Homo sapiens: one gene and its partners. The protein of the gene in region 1 purifies or fractionates together with the protein of each later gene. This does not show direct contact. Each region holds a gene or a part of one and is shown in the gene's direction. Other genes may lie near its edges.

Evidence for each region. The genes of interacting proteins can lie anywhere in the genome.
Region 2: the proteins of RPA1 (region 1) and RFC1 purify together in Homo sapiens (affinity purification with mass spectrometry; 3 studies listed by BioGRID, with this or other methods). This does not show direct contact.
Region 3: the proteins of RPA1 (region 1) and SMARCAL1 purify together in Homo sapiens (affinity purification with mass spectrometry; 8 studies listed by BioGRID and IntAct, with this or other methods). This does not show direct contact.
Region 4: the proteins of RPA1 (region 1) and ZUP1 purify together in Homo sapiens (affinity purification with western blotting; 4 studies listed by BioGRID, with this or other methods). This does not show direct contact.

What each region holds. Positions count from the first base shown.
Region 1 is NC_000017.11:1,885,505-1,890,213, forward strand, and holds part of RPA1 (replication protein A 70 kDa DNA-binding subunit), read left to right. Parts: intron 1-3,170; coding exon 3,171-3,347; intron 3,348-4,709. UniProt on the Homo sapiens protein: As part of the heterotrimeric replication protein A complex (RPA/RP-A), binds and stabilizes single-stranded DNA intermediates that form during DNA replication or upon DNA stress.
Region 2 is NC_000004.12:39,303,534-39,308,242, reverse strand, and holds part of RFC1 (replication factor C subunit 1), read left to right. Parts: intron 1-1,538; coding exon of another isoform or gene 1,539-1,541; coding exon 1,542-1,651; intron 1,652-3,314; coding exon 3,315-3,429; intron 3,430-4,709. UniProt on the Homo sapiens protein: Subunit of the replication factor C (RFC) complex which acts during elongation of primed DNA templates by DNA polymerases delta and epsilon, and is necessary for ATP-dependent loading of proliferating cell nuclear antigen (PCNA) onto primed DNA.
Region 3 is NC_000002.12:216,410,110-216,415,612, forward strand, and holds the start of SMARCAL1 (SWI/SNF-related matrix-associated actin-dependent regulator of chromatin subfamily A-like protein 1), read left to right. Parts: upstream 1-2,374; 5' UTR 2,375-2,539; intron 2,540-2,655; exon of another isoform or gene 2,656-2,689; intron 2,690-3,746; 5' UTR 3,747-3,783; intron 3,784-4,537; 5' UTR 4,538-4,595; coding exon 4,596-5,406; intron 5,407-5,503. UniProt on the Homo sapiens protein: ATP-dependent annealing helicase that binds selectively to fork DNA relative to ssDNA or dsDNA and catalyzes the rewinding of the stably unwound DNA. Rewinds single-stranded DNA bubbles that are stably bound by replication protein A (RPA).
Region 4 is NC_000006.12:116,658,438-116,663,146, reverse strand, and holds part of ZUP1 (zinc finger-containing ubiquitin peptidase 1), read left to right. Parts: intron 1-2,300; coding exon 2,301-2,411; intron 2,412-2,777; exon of another isoform or gene 2,778-2,914; intron 2,915-4,222; coding exon 4,223-4,344; intron 4,345-4,709. UniProt on the Homo sapiens protein: Deubiquitinase with endodeubiquitinase activity that specifically interacts with and cleaves 'Lys-63'-linked long polyubiquitin chains. Shows only weak activity against 'Lys-11' and 'Lys-48'-linked chains.

The sequences.
Region 1 (4,709 bases):
TCTGTCACTCAGGCTGGAGTGCACTGGCTTGATCACAGCTCACTGCAGTCTCAACCTCCCCAGGCTCCCAAGCTGGGACTACAGGTGCTGCCACACCTGGCTAATTGTATTTTTTGTAGAGACTGAGTTGTGTCATGTTGCCCAGGCTGCTCTCAAACTCCTGGGCTCAAGGGATCTCCCTGCCTCAACCTCTCAAAGTGCCAGGAGTTACAGGTGTGAGCGACTGTGCCCAGCCAACTGTTCTTAATAGCATCTAGAATGGTGAATCCTTTTCAGGTTTTCAATTTACTTTCCCCAGATCCATCAGAGGAATCACTGTGGCAACTATCGCCTCATGAAATATGTCTCTTAGACTTAAAAAGTCAAAATTACTCCTTGATTTGCATGGGCTGCAGAATAGATGTTGTTATCAAGCATGAAAACAATATTAATCTCCTTGTTCTGTGCATCTCCATTGAGCCCTCGGGTGAACAGGTGCATTGTCAATATATTAATCTCCTTGTACTGTGTGTCTCCATTGAGCCCTTGGGTGAACAGGTGCATTGTCAATATATTAATCTCCTTGTACTGTGTGTCTCCATTGAGCTCTTGTGTGAACAGGTGCATTGTCAATATATTAATCTCCTCGTACTGTGTGTCTCCATTGAGCTCTCGGGTGAACAGGTGCATTGTCAATGAGCAGTCATATTTTTAAAGGAGTCTCTTTTTCTGAGTAGTAGGTCTCAACAGTGGGCTTAAAATATTCAATAAACTACACTATAAATAGATATGCTGTCATCCAAGCTTTGATATTCTATTTATAAAGCAGAGGCAAAGTAGATTTAGCATAGTTCTTATGAGCCCTAAGATTTTTGACATGGTCAATGAGCACTGGCTTCACCTTATAGTCCCCAGCTGCATTCGCGCCTAACAGGAGAGTCAGCCTTTCCTTTGAAGCTTTGAAGCCAGGCATTGATTTCTACTCTCTAGGACGAATGTTCTTGATGGCATCTTCTTCCAGAAGGCTATTCTGTCTACGTTGAAAATCTGTTGTTGAGTGCAGCCACCTTCATTGGTGGTCCTAGCTAGATCTTCTGGATAACTTGCTGCAGCTTCTCCATCAGCACTTGCTGCTTCACCTTGCACTTTTGTTATGGTGACGGCTTATTTCCTTAAACCTCATGAACCAACATCTGCTGGCTGCCATCTTTTCTTCTGCAGCTTTTTTTTTTTTTTTTTTTGAGACAGAGTCTCACTCTGTCACCCAGGCTGGAGTGCAGTGGTGCAATCACAGCTCACCTCAGCCTCTGGAGTAGCTGGGACTACAGGTGCACACCACCGTGCCCTGACAGATTTTTGTAGAGACTAGGTCTCACTATGTTGCCTGGCTGGTATCGAACTCCTTGGCTTAGGCAATCATGTTGCCTCTGCCTCCCAAAGTGCTGGGATTACAGGTGTGAGCCACTGCACCTGGCCTCTTCTGCAGCTTCCTGACCTCTCTCAGCCTTCACAGAATTGAAGAAAGGTGAGGCCTTGCTCTGGGTTAGGCTTTGGCTTAAGAGAATGTTGTGGCTTGCTTGATATTCTATCTAGACCACTACAGCTTACTCCATATCAGCAGTAAGGCTGTTTGCTTTCTTATTTGTGTATTCAAAGAAGAGAGACAGGAATACTTGATTGGAGGATCAGTCAGCATACATACAACATTCATCAATATAAGTTCCCCATCTTATATGGGTGTAGTTGGTGGCACCCCAGAACAACTACAATAGTGACGTTAAAGATCACTGTAGGCCAGGCGCGGTGGCTCATTCCTGTAATCCCAGCACTTTGGGAGGCTGAGGCAGGCGGATCACCTGAAGTCAGGAGATCGAGACCATCCTGACCAACGTGGTTAAAACCCCGTCTCTACTAAAAATACAAAAATTAGCTGGGCGTAGTGGTGCATGCCTGTAGTCCCAGCTTCTCGGGAGGCTGAGGCAGGAGAATCGTTTGACCCTGGGAGGCGGAGATTTCAGTGAGCTGAGATCATGCCACTGCACTCCAGCCTGGTGACAGAGCGAGACTCCGTCTCAGAAAAAAAAAAAAAATCACCATAACAGATATGATAATAATGAAAAAGGGCCAGGCATGGTGGCTTACTCCTATAATCCTAGCACTTCGGGAGGCCAAGGTGGGTGGATCACTTGAGGTTTGGAGTTCGAGACCAGCCTACCCAACATGGCAAAACCCCATCTCTACTAAAAAATACAAAAATTAGCCAGGCGTGGTAGTGCACGCCTGTAGTCCCAGCTACTTGGGTGGCTGAGGCAGGAGAATCACTTGAACCTGGGAGGTGGAGGCTGCAGTGATCAGAGATTACACCACTCACTGCACCCCAGCCTGGGCGACAGAGCGAGACTCTGTCTCAAAAAATACATATATAATGAAAAAGTTTGAAATCTTGCAAGAATTACTGTCTTTATGTGACACAGAGACATAAAGTGAGCACCTGCTATTGGGAAAATAGTGCATTTACTTGACCCAGGGGTGCCACAAGTCTTCAATCTGTAAAAAATGCCGTATCTGTCAAGTGCAGTAAAGCAAAGCACAATAAAGTGAGGTGTGTCTGTAGTTGCAGCAGAGACTGTGACCAAATGGCTGCTAAGGCCTGAAATATTTACTGTTTGGCTTTTTACAGAAGCAGCTTGCTGATCCCTGGCCTAAACAAGGAAAAGGTGAATCTAGGCCTAGACACGACTGCCGTGTTTTGAGCGCGGGAGGGATGGTTGATCGTTGCTGCACTGGGTGTTTGTGGTCCGCATTCTGTATTTCCTAGATCTGTGGCCTTTGGAGGGTCAGAGGATCGGGAGGAACAAATCTTTGTCTTTCATACAGTGTTCAAGCAAACAGGAAAACAATTTCACTTTTAATTAACTTAGTGTAATTTAGGATTAACTCTTTTATTGTGAAGGAATTATCTGCCTCAGAACTTGGCTTATTAGAACTTGGCTTATTACCTTCATGGGTTTTGTACTCGGCACATGTGATTTCTAAAACTACAGAATGAATGATTCCCTGTGATCATGTGTAATCTTGAGGATGTAGAAACACTTACCACCTAAACGTAAGGGCAGGCTTTGAGCTGCCTCTCGGTCCGATCCTGGGCGGGCTCGCGACTCCGTGCCTCATGCTGTTCTTTTCTCCCGAAGCCGGACTACTTTAGTTCTGTGGCCACAGTGGTGTATCTTCGCAAAGAGAACTGCATGTACCAAGCCTGCCCGACTCAGGACTGCAATAAGAAAGTGATTGATCAACAGAATGGATTGTACCGCTGTGAGAAGTGCGACACCGAATTTCCCAATTTCAAGTACCGCATGATCCTGTCAGTAAGTAGCCTCGGTAGATGAGAACCACGGTTGTGTTCACGGAGGCCCTCCCGTGTGCCAGGCACTGTGGTCACAACAGTAGAGACAAAGCATTCCTGGTAGGAAGCCCGCAGATGAGTAGGTGTGGAAGAGCTTATCCATCCGCTTTTTCATGCCAGAAAGTGGTGTTGAGATACCCCAGCTGATTCAGTCTTTCATGCACGTCATACAGCCATAGCGTCAGTGACACTTGCCTGCTAACTGCTATGAAGATAAATTAATTTGAAAACGGCATTTATAGACAGCACTAATTGTACTTACACAGCCAATGCCCGTATTTAGTCACTTTCATGTGGATAATCTATTCTCTAGCTTTAGTATAGCTGACTTCAGAGGAATGTGACGGTGTGCTGATGTGAGATTGTTGCTTTTTTGCATTTTAAGAATTGTTTCTTTCTGTTTTAAAAACCTTTTTAAAAAAGTTGTAAAGTTGGGTTTAAAAAAATTTTTTTTTTTTTTTAAGAAACAGGGGTCTCACTCTGTTGCCCAGAATAGAGTGCAATGGTATCATCACAGCTCATGGTGGCCCCAACCTCCCGGGCTTAAGCAGTCCTTCCACCTTGGCCTCCCAAGTAGCTGCAACTACAGCTGTGCACCACCACACCCAGCTAATTTTTAAAATTATTTTATTGTAGAGACAGGGTCTCGCTCTGCTGTTCAGGTTGGTCTCAAGTTCCTGGCCTCATGTCATCCTCCCACCTCAGCCTTCCAAAGTGCTGGCATTACAAGCCTGAGCCACTGCACCCGGCCTTAAGATTTTTATTTTGTTTTGTTTTGTTTTCAATGATAGAACTAGGCGATAATAGCAGTTTAAGAAAACAGTTTAAGGCCGGGCACAGTGGCTCACTTTTGTAATCCCAGCACTTTGGGAGGCCGAGGCGGGTGCGTCACCTGAGATCAGGAGTTTGAGACCAGCCTGGCCAACATGGTGAAACCCTGTCTCTACTAAAAATACAAAAATTAGCCGGGCGTGGTGGCGGGTGCCTGTAGTCCCAGCTACTCGGGAGGCTGAGGCAGGAGAATCGCTTGAACCCGGGAGGCAGAGGTTGCAGTGAGCCGAGATCACACCACTGCACTCCAGCCCGGGCGACAAGAGCAAAACTCCATCTCAAGAAAAGAGAAAAAGAAAACAGTTTCACATTTTTCCAAAGGATGATTTGGCAGTAATATATCAGAAGCCTGAAAAATGTTCATATTGGCCAGGCGCAGTGACTTGTGCCTGTAACCCCAGCACTTTGGAAGGCTGAGGCAGGATGATTGCTTGAGGCTGGGAGTTCGATATCAGCCTGGGCAACATGGCAAGACCCTGTCTCTACAAAAAGT
Region 2 (4,709 bases), on another chromosome or scaffold:
TGAGTGTTGGGTAGGAAAGAGTATGTGTCCCAAGGTCTGAAGCCATGTGACAGCAAGACCCCTGAGTGGCAAGGGCACTAGGAGGAAAGCTGTGAATAAATAACAGAGGCATGCGTGCAGGGCAGTCAGCCTAAACTCCCAGTAGCAAGCACGATTTGCTGTGGCAGGCCCGATAGGCCTGTGCTTCTGTAGTTTCTGTCCTTGTTTATGATGTATTATTTGTCGTGGAGAGTGAAAAGCTCCAATATGTATTTAATGTCCAAAGTATTTTCTTAACTGAGCTTTGAGATCACAAATGTTTTAGTAGTGTTTTCAACATAGACCAGTGATGACTAGATTGCCAATCATCATTGCCAATGATGCCTGTTTATTTATAAAAATAATATATTGTAATGATACAGGACTAAATTTAAGTTAAATCACTTTTTTCATTCTGAAACTTCATAAAATCTCCCTTAAAAGAGGAGACAGGCATTTCATGTGCCTGGAGAAGACTGTTTTTTTTTTGTTTTGTTTTGTTTTGTTTTGAGACAGAGTCTTGCTCTGTTGCCCAGGCTGGAGTGCAGTGGTGCGATCTTGGCTCACTGCAACCTCTGCTTCCTGGGTTCAGGTGATTCTTCTGTCTCAGCCTCCTGAGCAGCTGAGACTACAGGTGCACACCACCATGCCTGGCTAATTTTTTGTAGTTTTAGTAGAGATGGGATTTCACCATGCTGGCCAGGCTGGTCTTGAACTCCTGACCTTGTGCTCTACCCGCCTTGGCCTCCCCAGGTGCTGAGATTACAGGCGTGAGCCACCGCACCCAGCCAAGAAGACTGTTTTAAAGCTTCGGGTGAACTCTAGTCCCTGTCTTCATGCCCGCTGGCAGTAGGTTGAAAACCATTGTCTCTGTCAGTTATTGAGTATGAGTTGAGCATGATGTATGTGCCAGGTGCTCACGTGGTGAGGGGAGGAAGAGTGCTGTAGTGTTGAGGGGCACAAGGTAGTTGCAGACGCAGCATCTTCAAGTCATTTTTTCTTCTTGTGACCATGTAGCTACTATGCTTGTTAACATTTAGTGAAGCTTGCATGGCTCTGTGCTCAGCCATTCCGTCCTCACAACATCCTTAGCAGCAACTTTACTGTTGTTCTCCTCATCTAACAAAGGAGGAGGCAGGCACAGAGGGGCTAAGTCACTTCTAAAGTACCCACGGCTGGTGAGAGGTGGCATGAGGATGGATGGAGTTGGGATCGAGCCCCGGCAGCGTGCTCCATGGCCTGTGCGTTCACAGGAAAGGAAACTCATACAATTATTATTTCAAATCAAGAGTTTTAAGTGAGTTAGTTTTAGTTTTTTATTTTGGGTGGGGGTGAGGTAGGAAGTAGAATTTCACTGAATGCTCTGGAAACTTGTTTATGCTTTGTAGAAAATAGTCTGCAAATTTAGAACTAAACTGGAGGACAGCTGTCTATGTGAAGTTTAGGCATAACTATTTCTGCCATGCTTGAATTTCTGTTAGGTGATATAGGTTGACACTCTGGAACTTCTTTTTTCCTAGCAGCAAAGTTTGGTAAATTTTCCGGCAAAGATGATGGCTCTAGTTTTAAAGCAGCGTTGCTGTCAGGCCCTCCTGGTGTTGGCAAAACCACCACAGCTTCCCTGGTGTGTCAGGTGGGTGCGTTGTCACAGTGTGGTCGGACAGATAACCTCGAGTGGTCATGGCTAGGAGATAAAAGTGTGTACCCACATCTGTGCGTGTGCATGTGTGTGTGTGGTGTCTATATATAAACTGTGTTTATTTTTCTAAGATAAAACCTTTAGAACCTGTTTTGGTTCTGGCGATGTTTGTAATTTTAATCCTTTTAAAATATTGGTAATTAAAGTAATAAGCAATACTTACCAACGAGCGAGGCAGTGTACTAAGCACGTGGGTGTATTATAGATAACAAAAACATGTATTCTAGACTCTGAAAGATGCAAATATCTTAATGCCTTTGAATAATTCTGTGTACTGAATAATTATCTGTACTGTCATCATCCACATGTGTCAAATGAAATAGGCTTAGGGAGGAGGGTGGAGGCCCAGTTTTCACCCGGTAGCGCGACTCAGGGTTCTGCTCTTCAGCACTGTGTGATCCTGCCTTCGTTCCTATTGTCTCTATTGCTACTGAATCCCTGTAGACAATGGGAGAACTTGACTTGCTTAGGCACTAGAGCAGATCAGAGTTCACGTGTTAGTATCACAGTGATGAAATAAGAGATTAGAAATTTATTGCTGGATTTCTCAATCCTCTGCTGCATAAGCTTGTGGTTTCTTTTGTTTTTTTGTTGTATGCATCTGCATAAAATTTAAATAAAATTTTATCTGTTTCCACTGTGTTTATAAACATTAATGAAAAAGCAAAACAACATTTTTTTCCTAGTCCCTACAGTTGTGAACACAACTCTTTTTCTCTCTTTATTATTATCATTATATTTTTTATGAATTAAGGCATAAGGTAATCAGTTTTGGGAAATGAATCAGAAGAATTTGAATTTTCCTGATTTCAGAGGAAAATAGTTTATTGGGATAGTGTCGTGACAAAGAATGATTTAACTTTATAAATTATCTTAGAGAGGATTACTTTTTGATATCTTATTTTATTTTTTTGTTTTGAGACACAGTTTTACTCTGCCACCCAGGCTGGAGTGTAATGGCACGGTCTCGGTTCACTGCAACTTCTGCCTCCCAGGTTCAAGTGATTCTCATGCCTCACCCTCCAGAGTAGCTGAGACTACAGGAACACGCCACCACGCCCAGCTAATTTTTTGTATTTTTAGTCGAGATGGGGTTTCACCATGTTGGCCAGGCTGGTTTCAAACTCCTGACCTCAATTAATCCATCCACTTTGGACTCCCAAAAGCGCTGGTATTACAGGTGTGAGTCAACGCACCTGGCTGGTATCTTATACTAGATTAATTCTGTGTCTGATAGTGAATTGTTGGGATGATTATGTTTAATCCTTTTTTTAGGACTTTAAGAAGTAAATTTAGTAAAATTGCTTGTTTGAATATACTCTTCCAGATTAGTGATTTGTCAGCTGAAGTTTTAAGACCAAACTTATTTGTGTTTGTATGTGTATGTTATATGTATGTATATGATATTCTAAAAATTTCTAATATTGTAAGGCATACTATAGTTAATCTCATTGTCTGTTAGTATCATACTTTATACTTTACCTATGGGTTTTTATATTAATTTTGTACCTTCTTTCTTTCTTAACTGGCCTTTCTTGGCGGGGGTGGTGGAGTTAATTTGTATTGTGCCTTCAGTGGTTTCCAATATTTTGATTAGGAGTTGGGATACAGCTACGTGGAACTGAATGCAAGTGACACCCGGAGTAAGAGCAGTTTGAAGGCGATTGTTGCTGAGTCACTGAACAATACCAGCATCAAAGGCTTTTATTCAAGTATGTGGCTTTTTGACCTCCTGTTGTTGTTATATAAGAAAAATATGTTCATTTCAATGTTCAGTAACCAGTATTGAACACAGGTTGTGTGCCAAGCACCCTACTAAATTCTGGGGCTAACAAGAGAATAAGAAAGCCGTCTGACATCACTCTTATGGGGCAGTACTTACCCTTTCGTAGGTCTTAGAGGTTTCTAAGAATGTGATAAAAATGTGTACATGCACATATTCGTTTTTCATGATTTTAGAGGATTCACAGGTGAATCCTGTAAAGAGAGAAAGAAAATAAAAAACCATGTGTAATGCAGTGTGACTTATTACCTCATTACCTTATTAACCTCACTCTGCATGTATGTAATAAAGTATGTAATACAGAGTGAGGTAATAAGGCCAGCAGATGAAGAAGTAATTATGCTTGGGGCATTGAGTTAAAGGGGTGATAATTGTTTTGAAAGACCTCAAAGAATGAGAAAGAAAACTATTTGGAGGTGGAAGAGGTCACTGCAGGCAAAGGTAGTAAAAGAGAAGACAGTGTGCAAATGCCCACTGTGTTTCAGGTTGTAGCTAGTGGTCCTCTATGGCCAGAGTTCATGGAAAATAAGATGCTCAAGTTAAGGACCGCACAGTGCCTATTTAGAGTCTATGGTGTGTTGTTTTGTCACCTGAATTCTTGGTGCCTTCACATTGTTCAAAATAATTTGCTCAGGAAATGTCACTCTTAGACGTGGCTGGTGGGAGGGTAGATTGGTACAACTCTGGAGAGAGTCCAGCAATATTTCTCAAATTACACATACCGTCTAGCCCAGAAATTCCAATTGCTGGAATTTAGCTATTATTTTATATGTGCAAAGTGGCATATATATGCCATATAGATAAGGATAGTCATTTAGTATGACATAATAGAAAAAAGCTTGGAAGCATCCTATATATTTCATTAATGGTGATTAAGTAAAGTGTGTGATACAAGTGTAGAATGGAGTATTAAATTGCCTTAAAAAATGAAGTGTTCTGTATCTGTAAGATAAAGAATGAATCACCAAAATACATAAAATGACAAAACTGGCTGGGCATGTTGGCTCACGCCTGTAATCCCAGCACTTTGGGAGGCTGAGGCGGACAGATCACCTGAGGTCAGGAGTTTGAGACCAGCCTGGTCAACATGGTGAAACACCGTCTCTACTAAAAATACAAAAATTAGCTGGGTGTGGTGGCGTGCGCCTGTAATCTCAGCTACTTGGGAGGCTGAGGCAAAAGAATTGCTTGAACCCGGGAGGCGGAGGT
Region 3 (5,503 bases), on another chromosome or scaffold:
TTTTTTTGTTGTTGAGATGGAGTTTCACTCTTGTTGCCCAGGCTGAAGTGCAATGGCATGATCTCAGCTCACTGCAACCTCCGCCTCCAGGGTTCAAGCGATTCTCCTGCCTCAGCTTCCTGAGTAGCTGGAATTACAGGCATGCACCACCACGCCCAGCTACTTTTTGTATTAGATGGGGTTTTGTAGAGATGAGGTTTCACCATATTGGCTAGGCTAGTCTCGAACTCCTGACCTCAGGTGATCTGCCTGCTTTGGCCTCCCAAAGTGCTGGGATTATAGACATGAGCCACCACACCCGGCCTCAAAGGCATATTTTAATTTCCTATTCTTAGAATTTTAGAATGTTAGAGCTAGAAAGGTAATCACATCTTCTAACTCAATTCCAGACTTACTGAATTGGAATTTCTGGGGTAAGATCTGTGAATCTATAAGAATTCTAGTATCTAACATGAGGATCCACTGGTCCACAGGCCCTCTTAGCATATGTCAAAGCAGGGTATCATTTTACAGGTGAGACGACTGAGGCCCAGGAAAGCGAAGTGATGGTCATATGAATCGGTGACAGACATGAGTCAAGTGCACGGCACCCAGCTTTCTTAGTAAATTAACTGACTGTTGGGAGACAGGAAGGGCAGGGACAGGTGTTCATTAACTAGTTTCTGTTCACACTATACAGTAGGAAATGAGCGCTAGGTATAGAGAAACGGACGATATAAGAGATTTACCTCAAATAATAACAACATCCCTCTCTTACCTGTTCTGGGATTTCACAGTTCACTAAGCACTTCCCCTCATAATACCTTGCTTTGATTCTAATAACAAGATTTACCAAGGTGGTATTGTTTTCTACATTTACTTTACAGATGAGAAAATGGAGGCACAATCACTGGGTATGTCAGGTCAATAAAAGGGGTAGAGCTGAGATTTGAATACTTTCTACTACTAAACCTCACACAGATCCCCTAAGACAGGCAATGTCTTTGTCATTTAAGACAAATGGGCTGGGCGCAGTGGCTCACACCTGTAATCCCAGCACTTTGGGAGGCTGAGGCAGGTGGATCACTTGAGGTCAGGAGTTTGAGACCAGCCTGGCCAACATGGTAAAACTCTGTCTCTACTAAAATTACTAAAATCAGCCAGGCATGGCGGCATGCACCCATAATCCCAGCTATTTGGGAGGCTGAGGCAGGAGAATCATTTGAACCCAGGAGTCAGAGGCTGAAGTGAGCCAAGATTACACCACCACACTCAGTCTAGGCAACAGAGTGAGACTCTGTCTCAAAAAAAAAAAAAAAAAAAAAAAAAAAAAAAAAAAGGAAGGAAGGAAGAAGGGAGATTATTTATTGTTTCAAAAGTCACACAAATTCTACATTATTATTTTAGAAAATTCAAATCATTCTGAAAAATAGAGATTAAAAAGCTGAAAAGTGTATTTCATGCCACTCTGCTCCTGAACAGTTTGGTGACTTTTTAAGTTTCCTTCCCAGACCTTTATGAGTTTACATACATGTACAGGTAAGGATGAAAAAAAAAAAAATCAAACTACACACATTGCTGTGCTTCCTTTTTCTTAGCATGTCTGGTCCATTTTTTCAAATCCTTTAGTAGACTTGTTTGTTTTTAAATGAGCCATGTTTGAAAATAGAACAATAGCAACATTCATATGCACACTGATAGAGAAATGTTATATTTATCACCAATGGTGCTCAGGATGGCTCAGGATGTTGGTGCTCAGGATGGGGTAAAGTGACTCTTTAAGTCTCATGACTAATCTTCTCTCAAGAGGAGGGGCTATGGAATCAGAATCACAAGCTAGCTTAATAAAGCCTTGAGAAATATTATCAAATAGCTGTCTTAGTTTCCCCCTCTGTAAAAGGGGGACAAGAATGTGTTCCATAGGTTGTAGTGCGGTTAAATGAGGTAACTCATATTTATGCTAAACACAATGACTGATGACTACAATGATGACGATGATGGCAGCCGGGCGCAGCGGGTGGGGCTTAAATGGCAAGTATAGCAATACCAGGAATGGATGCCCCGGGGAGATACTTTTTATTAAGAGCTGCCAAGTTAGTATGGCTGTCTGGGATGTCCTCTGGAGACAGCCGACTCCGGGTTTGGAAACCTCAACGTCCTAGGCTTTCAGGACCTAGTGTTTGGCTAAACCTCTGGAGAACTACAACTTCCAGGGTGCACCACTTTCGCCCCGCCCATGACGTTGCAGCTCCCGTTTCTCGCCAGGCTCCCGGCCCGAACTACAAATCCCAGAAGACACTGCAGCCCCGCTCGCGTTCTCGTCTCATCATTCTTACTTTTGGAAGCGAAACTGCGGCCGCGTTGCCTGCTGGGAAATGTAGTTCAGCGGTGGCCTAGCCCTTCAGGCCTGGCCGCTACAATAAGGCTGGCGAACTCGCAGCGCTTGAATACCCGTGGCCTAACCGTCCACTCGGAAGACCGGTCCCGCTCGGGAGGCTCTGCAGTCGCGCCTGGGGTCAGGGCCGGGGGCGAATGTGGCTCGCGTTCTAGGCCTCCCTGGGTGAGAAAGTGGTAGACTGGCAGGAAGGCGGCGGAGGCGGACGAGACCAATGCCAGCCTGGAGGAGGAAGTGGGCCAATGGGAAGGGTGAATCCAAGTGGAGATCGTAGGGGTGGGAGTGGGGCGTGGCGCCCGCTTACCTTGAGGCTGGGTGAGGCTCGCCCCGAAATGCGGGGCGTGGGGGGCGGGGGGCAGAGGTCCCTGCCTAGAGGGGAAGAGGGGCGTCCATGTGGCGGAATGGATTTATGGTTTGGGGCTGATCAGTGGGTCTTATGGCCGAGTCTCTCTGGTTAGTGGAGACAGCTTACCAGGCCTGGGATCTGGGGAGTTTGGAGGTGCAGGAGATCCCTGGTTGGAAACTTAGGCAGGAGTGTGTTACCCAGAGAGACTGAGGGCTTCTGCTGTGCACCTCCAAAACCTTTTCCTAACCTCTTCACCCCTTCCTAACTGCTAATGGTTGGAGAAGGTGGAAGTTCTCTGGGGATAGATACTTCGTGGTGGGGGAGGGGGGAGGGGGGTTGGGTTCTGGCCAAAGGGAGCCCCAGCAGGGAAGGAAGGCTTTGAACCCTATAGCTGCCCAGAGGCCTAAGCAATGCTACTGGAGTACCCCTACATCATCATTGTAACCGTTACACAGCATTACATTAGATGCAGCCTATTTAGTCTGAACCAAGCCAGACAAATTGGTGTGTCCTGCCCGCTGCTTCTAAAATATTGTAAACATGTCTCAGCTCATAGGAAAATAAATGTTCCGGGTAAATTCATGGAAAAAAATAATCAGGGTGCAATATGGAATGTTTACAATGATCCTACTTTATAATAAATTCTTATATCTCCTAAATATGTGCCATTTTGTTATGGATGAAAAAAAATCCGAACTATATACTCTAAATTATTAATTTCAACTGTGGTTATTGATGGCTGGTAAGATTACAGAGTAATTTTATTCTTTTTTGTTTACATCTTTATGTAGCATCTTAATTTGCACAGTGAACACATAATTTTTTTTTTTCTGCTCCTTATTTTCCCAGGAGAGTCAGTCAGTTGCTCCGTGTGTTGTGTTGGAAGTCAGGTCCTAAGGCCAGCTGCTCTGGCTTGCACTGAGCCACAGGCAGACTGATTTGCCAGGAATGATAAAAAGGGGTGAATGTGAGGGGAGAATTCAGTGTGCAGGCTATGGGAGGCTAATGCTTTTTTCCTTCTTCTAGGTTGGAAAAAGACTATGTTAGCAAGTGTCACGCCATGGTATGTGGTTGGTTGGTCTATTTCAGTCTAATCTATTATGCTTTCTGGTTAAAAATGTCACCTTTCTCATTATCTGATGGATTTACGTTGCAATGCATAACTTTCTTAGGTTCTGATAACTCACCTTGGCTGGGCCATGTGAGTTATCAGAAGAGTTACTCACCATTTTGGCAGTGCTTCGAACCATTGAGTTACCATGTGAGTTACCATGTGAGAAGGAGAGAAATATTGCCTCTGAAATGCCTTTTTAGCTTTGGATTTGCTTTTTGCTTTTTTTTTTTTCTTTGAGAGTTTTGTTCTTGTTGCCCAGGCTGGAGTGCGGTGGCACGATCTTGGCTTACTGCAACCTCTGCCTCCCAGGTTCAAGCAATTCTCCTGCCTCAGCCTCCCAAGTAGCTGGGATTACAGGCGTGCACCACCACGCCTGGCTAATTTTGTATTTTTAGTAGAGATGGGGTTTCACCATGTTGGCCAGGCTGGTCTCAAACTCCTGACCTCAAGTGATCCACCTGCCTCAGCTTCCCAAAGTGCTGGGATTACACCCGACCTGCTTTTTGCTTTTTGATCAGGGTCTTTATTTCAGCATATGCTGCCTACTATTTCAGTGTGTGTGCAATTATAAAAGAAACTTTAATACATCCTTTAGTTGTGCTCATTATGCATTTTCTGGGACAAAAGCTTGTTAAAATCATGGTTGGAGTATGACAATTAATACATGTAATGTTCATTTCATTCTTCTTACTTTCTTCCACAGCTTTTGCCAACTTTCCAATTAAAGGTTGACATTCCTGCATAAGCATTTCTCTGTGAAAATGTCCTTGCCTCTTACAGAGGAGCAGAGGAAAAAGATTGAAGAGAATCGACAAAAGGCTCTGGCCCGCAGAGCTGAGAAGTTATTGGCAGAACAGCATCAGAGGACTAGCTCGGGCACCTCCATTGCTGGCAACCCATTCCAGGCCAAGCAAGGCCCATCCCAAAATTTCCCAAGGGAGTCTTGTAAGCCAGTGAGCCATGGTGTCATTTTCAAGCAACAGAATCTCAGTAGCTCATCTAATGCTGACCAAAGACCTCATGATTCCCACAGTTTTCAGGCAAAGGGAATATGGAAAAAGCCAGAAGAAATGCCCACAGCCTGCCCAGGCCACAGTCCACGTAGTCAAATGGCTCTCACTGGAATCTCTCCTCCCTTGGCACAAAGTCCTCCAGAGGTCCCTAAACAACAGCTCTTGAGTTATGAGTTAGGTCAAGGTCATGCTCAGGCTTCACCTGAGATCAGGTTCACACCCTTTGCTAACCCAACTCATAAGCCTCTGGCCAAACCAAAGAGTTCCCAAGAGACACCAGCTCATTCCTCTGGACAGCCTCCCAGGGATGCTAAGTTAGAGGCCAAGACAGCAAAAGCCTCCCCTTCGGGGCAGAACATTTCTTACATCCATTCTAGCTCAGAGAGTGTAACGCCCAGGACAGAAGGAAGACTCCAGCAGAAGTCAGGGTCCTCAGTCCAAAAAGGAGTGAACTCTCAGAAGGGAAAGTGCGTAAGGAACGGCGATCGTTTCCAGGTGTTGATTGGGTACAATGCGGAACTCATTGCAGTGTTTAAGACCCTGCCCAGCAAGAATTATGGTAATGTCTTCATTTTTCAGCTGTTTTTTTTTTTTTTTCTTATTTTTGGAGTCTCTTTTAATCTAACAGTTTCTCATAAATATTAAGAGAGTGCATT
Region 4 (4,709 bases), on another chromosome or scaffold:
AGGTGTTTGGGAGTGATATTTGAAATTGAGATTTCAGAGATTCACTTAGTGATAAATTAAGGGTATAATTTTTGTCATTCGGTTGGTAAATTAGGGTAAAGGAAAAGATTGTTGGAAATGAAGGCATAGAACTATTTCTATGGATATTGAAGTTGCTAAGAATGATCATAGTATAGGGGCTAGGAAAAGAAGGTTTTGATCCAGGTGTTAACATTTTTAGTAAATGAAAGGAGTGTCTAAGACTTCAGAAAATATTAGGCACTAAGAAAGGTAGATGATGCCATATTATGGTGACATGAGTTATTACAAAAATGGGGCTTAAAACAGGTTTGACAGTGGTGAAAGGGAGCAAAGGGGATGCCTCTTCTACTTCTAGGGCCCTGAATTGTGAAAGAAAAGTTGCCTGTGTGTTAGGGGGCTGTAGAGAAAATGGGGTGTCATGAACCAACCAGATTTTAGTTAAGTCAAGAAGGTGAAGTGAATATCCAGAGAAAGATTTTGTGTATAGAGAAGCTGACTGATGACCGATGGTATTTCTGAGGGCATTGTGGTAGGTATTGGGAGAATAGGAGGGGTAATAGCTTGGGTCAGATTAGCAGATGTCCTTCAGGTATTTAAAGATTGTTAAGACACTGCCACTGAACAATTAGATTGGATTCATTGACACAACAGTGTTGGTGGTTACATCAGCCCTAGATGACTCCATTGGATGATGATGGCTAACCTCTGAGGCTTAGTTTAGATTCTGGTGGTAAAAAATGTATACTGGGATATGAGGTGTAGTGTGGTCTAATGTTGAGGAAGGTTGGTTATCACTTAAAACTAGAAGGGGTGGAGGGATTGGCTTGCAGTAGTGTGATGATCAAAGCGATAAGCAAAGGCCTCCTTGGCATTGGCTCTGGCTCTAAGGCATTTTATGGTAGAGAACTGGCTGAAAGACTTCTCTTACATCCGCCAGCATTACTTATGGAAGCTGTATACCATTATTTCTTACTGCTGCTTTTGGAAATATTTTCTGAGTACTTAATACTTCATTTTCTCTTGAGCTTTGCCATTGAATTTTTTATTCCAATGATTACATCTTAATATTTTCATTTTCTTCATCTTTCTATTTTTTCTTAGTAACTTTCTGTCCTGGTTTCAAAGATTCAGTTCCCTCCTTTATTTCAGTGAGCATTTTGAACATACTTATTTTACAGTTTATTATGGATTACTGTAGCTCCATTTCTTCACAGGTAACTTTTTCAGTTTGTAGATTTCTTAGCTGTTTTTCTTGGCATTGCAGCCCCCAGTGAGTTTAGCAATTCAAATTTTAGTGTTCATCTGTTATGGGAGTTTTATATGATCCCTTCCCTGTGAAGCAGTTTCATGGTTCCTTCACACTGGCTGTTCACAGTCTCTGCTTTCAGACCAGGCCTTACATATACAGATTGCTCTATGCTTTCACTCTGTGTATATGCACAATTCTGGGTCCCTCTTCTATGTCCCTTATCTGCTAGGTCTTGGTCTTATAGAGGAACAATTTCTGTTTTTGGCAAGCTAGACCTGTCTGCCTGCAGTGCTATGTGATGGATGCAGCTCTTTAATCTCCTGCTCCTGTGTAGACAGTATTACCCCAATTCCCAGCTTTATGCTGGATGTTTAAGTTCAGCACCTTACCACTCTGTTGGGTGCTGAGAATTTAGTCCTAAAAACCCATATCCAGACTGGGCCCTACTTACCACTTTGGTTTTCCTTTCTGCTTCTCTTGTTTTGACTACAGATCTGAATATTTATTATTAATATTTCCTTTTTTTTTGGAGTGGTATGAGAGGTTTGTGCTATGCTCAGCCTTCTATCTCGACCCTAGAAGTAGAAAAATAGCTTTTAAATCCACTACAAAGAGCTTTTACTTATATAAGGTTAATAGGTGGTAGACAGTCTTTGACATGGGGTGAAAAAATCTAAAAGTTATAAAAATAAAACCAACTTGGCTGGGCATGGTGGCTCATGCCTGTAATCCCAGCACTTTGGGATGCTGAGGCAGAAGGATCACTTGAGTCCAGGAGTTTGAGACCAGCCTGGACGACATAGTGAGATCTCATCTCTAAAAAAAAAAAAATTAGCTGGGCGTGGTGGCGCATGCCTTTAGCCCCATCTACTTGGGAGGCTGAGATGGGAGGATTGCTGCAGTGAGCCGTGATGGTGCCACTGCACGCCAGCCTGGGCAACAGAGTGAGACCCTGTCTCAAAAAAAAAAAAAGCAAAGAAAAAAATTAAAATAAAAAAATAAAAACAACTTAATTATATCTCTGATACAGACTGTGATCAACCACTCTATGATTGTCCTATGTGTGGGCTCATATGTACAAATTACCATATTCTTCAGGAACATGTTGACTTGCATTTGGAAGAAAACAGCTTTCAGCAAGGTATGTTTATATGTTTGAAGATAAAAATATCATTTAATTTCTACTTTCTAGGACACATATCTAATTTTTAGATTTGTGATATGGAAAAAATATTTTAAAATACATCTTTTCCTTTAAAAGTGTTTTATTTACAAGTTGAGGCCATTTCTTTAGCAGCTAGAAGTATCTGAATATTGTATTTGGTCAGCGAAAATTGTTGAACTAGAAAACTGCCATATGGCACATAAAATTTTACAAATGAATGTGAACTATATAACCAAAACATCTTTCAGTGCATCTTGAGCTGCTTGAATAGCTTCTAAATGACTTACTGGTTTTATTGTGATTCTATAAAAGTTTTCCTTTCTCCCCTATGTTTTTTAATAGTGGCATTGTTTAAATAATCATTATGGTGGCTTAGAAGTGGAAAAATCCTATATGAATGTTAGAAGCCCACTGAACGAAAATAAAAAGTAGATCCCAAGAGAAACCAATTGTGTTTTACCCTATTTCAGTTTTTTAAGGTACGTAGATAGCTTCTGTTAAGGCAGAGGTCTTTAGTGTCCAGTATCAATGATCCTAGTACCAGTATCGGTGTTCATGGACAATGTTACTGCTCACTCACCCTAAGCCAAATATGAGATTATTGGGGCAAAGATGGAAAAGTTCCCTGCTCTGGTGGTTTCTGAATGTCTGCTAATTCTTACTCTTATTTATGATAGGCTTTGTATGAGCACGTATATTACAGTGTAAACCTATAGTGGGTAATAAGAAAAAGATATGGTCTAAGTAAATCACTGTAGATAACCTCAGGGGACACTAAACATTGAGTGTGACTTGTATATCCCCAAGAATGGAAGGGTGACCAAATAGGAAGATGTAGCAGCAGCTGAGAACTTTGAAAGGAAAGGAAGAATAGTCAGTGATATAATTAAACCATCAGGTCATGGGGTTAAGGAGACAAGATAGTGGCCAGAAGCCACTGACAAATGGATCTGGGGGACACCGAGTAGAGAAGATGCAGGATGAGATGTTGCAAAGTTTTACCATTTTTGGGGGCCAAACTGTAATTAAATTATTATCTAACACCTGCACTTTGTAAATGTGTATTTTTATGCTCTTTATTTTTTTTTTTTTCTCCCCTAGTATTTCTTTGAAAAATCAATCTGCCTTAGTTATGTTAAGGAGTATCAATGCAGGATGTTACTTAACGTTTTAAAATTCTGGTTTCCTCAGTAAATAATAATAACTACTTCATAAGATTGTTACAAAGATCAAATGATATAATTAATGAAAAGTGCTTGTCACAGCTTTAAACACTTAGTGAGGCTGGGCATGGTAGCTCACGCCTGTAATCTCAGCACTTTGGGAGGCCGAGGCTGGTGGATCACCTGAGGTTAGGAGTTTGAGACCAGCCTGACCAACATGGCGAAACTCCATCTCTACTAAAAATACAAAAATTAGCTGGGCATGGTGGCAGGCACCTGTAATCCCAGCTACTCAGGAGGCTGCAGCAGGAGAATCACTTGAACCTGGCAGGCAGAGGTTGCAGTGAGCTGAGATCGCACCATTGTACTCCAGCCTGGGCAATAAGAGCGAAACTCCGTCTCAAAAAACAAAAAACAGTGACTGTTAGTTGTCATTTAGATGGAGGTTATTCCTTACCAAAGCAGTTCTAAGTTTTGCTAAATTTGTACTCAGTTCCATATCATCACAGTCATGAATAAATGGCAAATAACAGCATTTACTCTATTTTAAAAACATATATTAAATAATAAATAATCTTTGATTGCAACAGTTATTTTATTCTGAACATTAACAATACCTAACAGGCATGGATAGAGTCCAGTGTTCTGGTGATCTACAATTGGCTCACCAGCTTCAGCAAGAAGAAGACAGAAAGAGGAGATCTGAAGAATCAAGACAAGAAATAGAAGAATTTCAGAAGCTGCAGGTACAAAGATTAATAACAATTATAATATTTTGATTTGGTAAAGTTATTTTTCAAATATGCTTTCCAGTGTATTATTTTTGTCCTTGTTATTATTCAAAAAAAATTTATACATGTTTGTAACAGACACCATTTATAAATATTCATTCTAGTGAGGCACAGGGGTAATCACTTCACATACAATATCTCAAAATCTTTGCAACATATTCATGAAGAAGTTACTTTAGGCCCTCCCACGCCCCCTTTTTTTTCAGATGAAGAAATGGAGACAGAGAATGGTTAAGTAATTTGCTCAGTGTCAGGCAGCTAATTAGTGATAAAGCTTGCATTCAAACCTGTGTAAGTTGATGGGACAAATTAGGAAACCA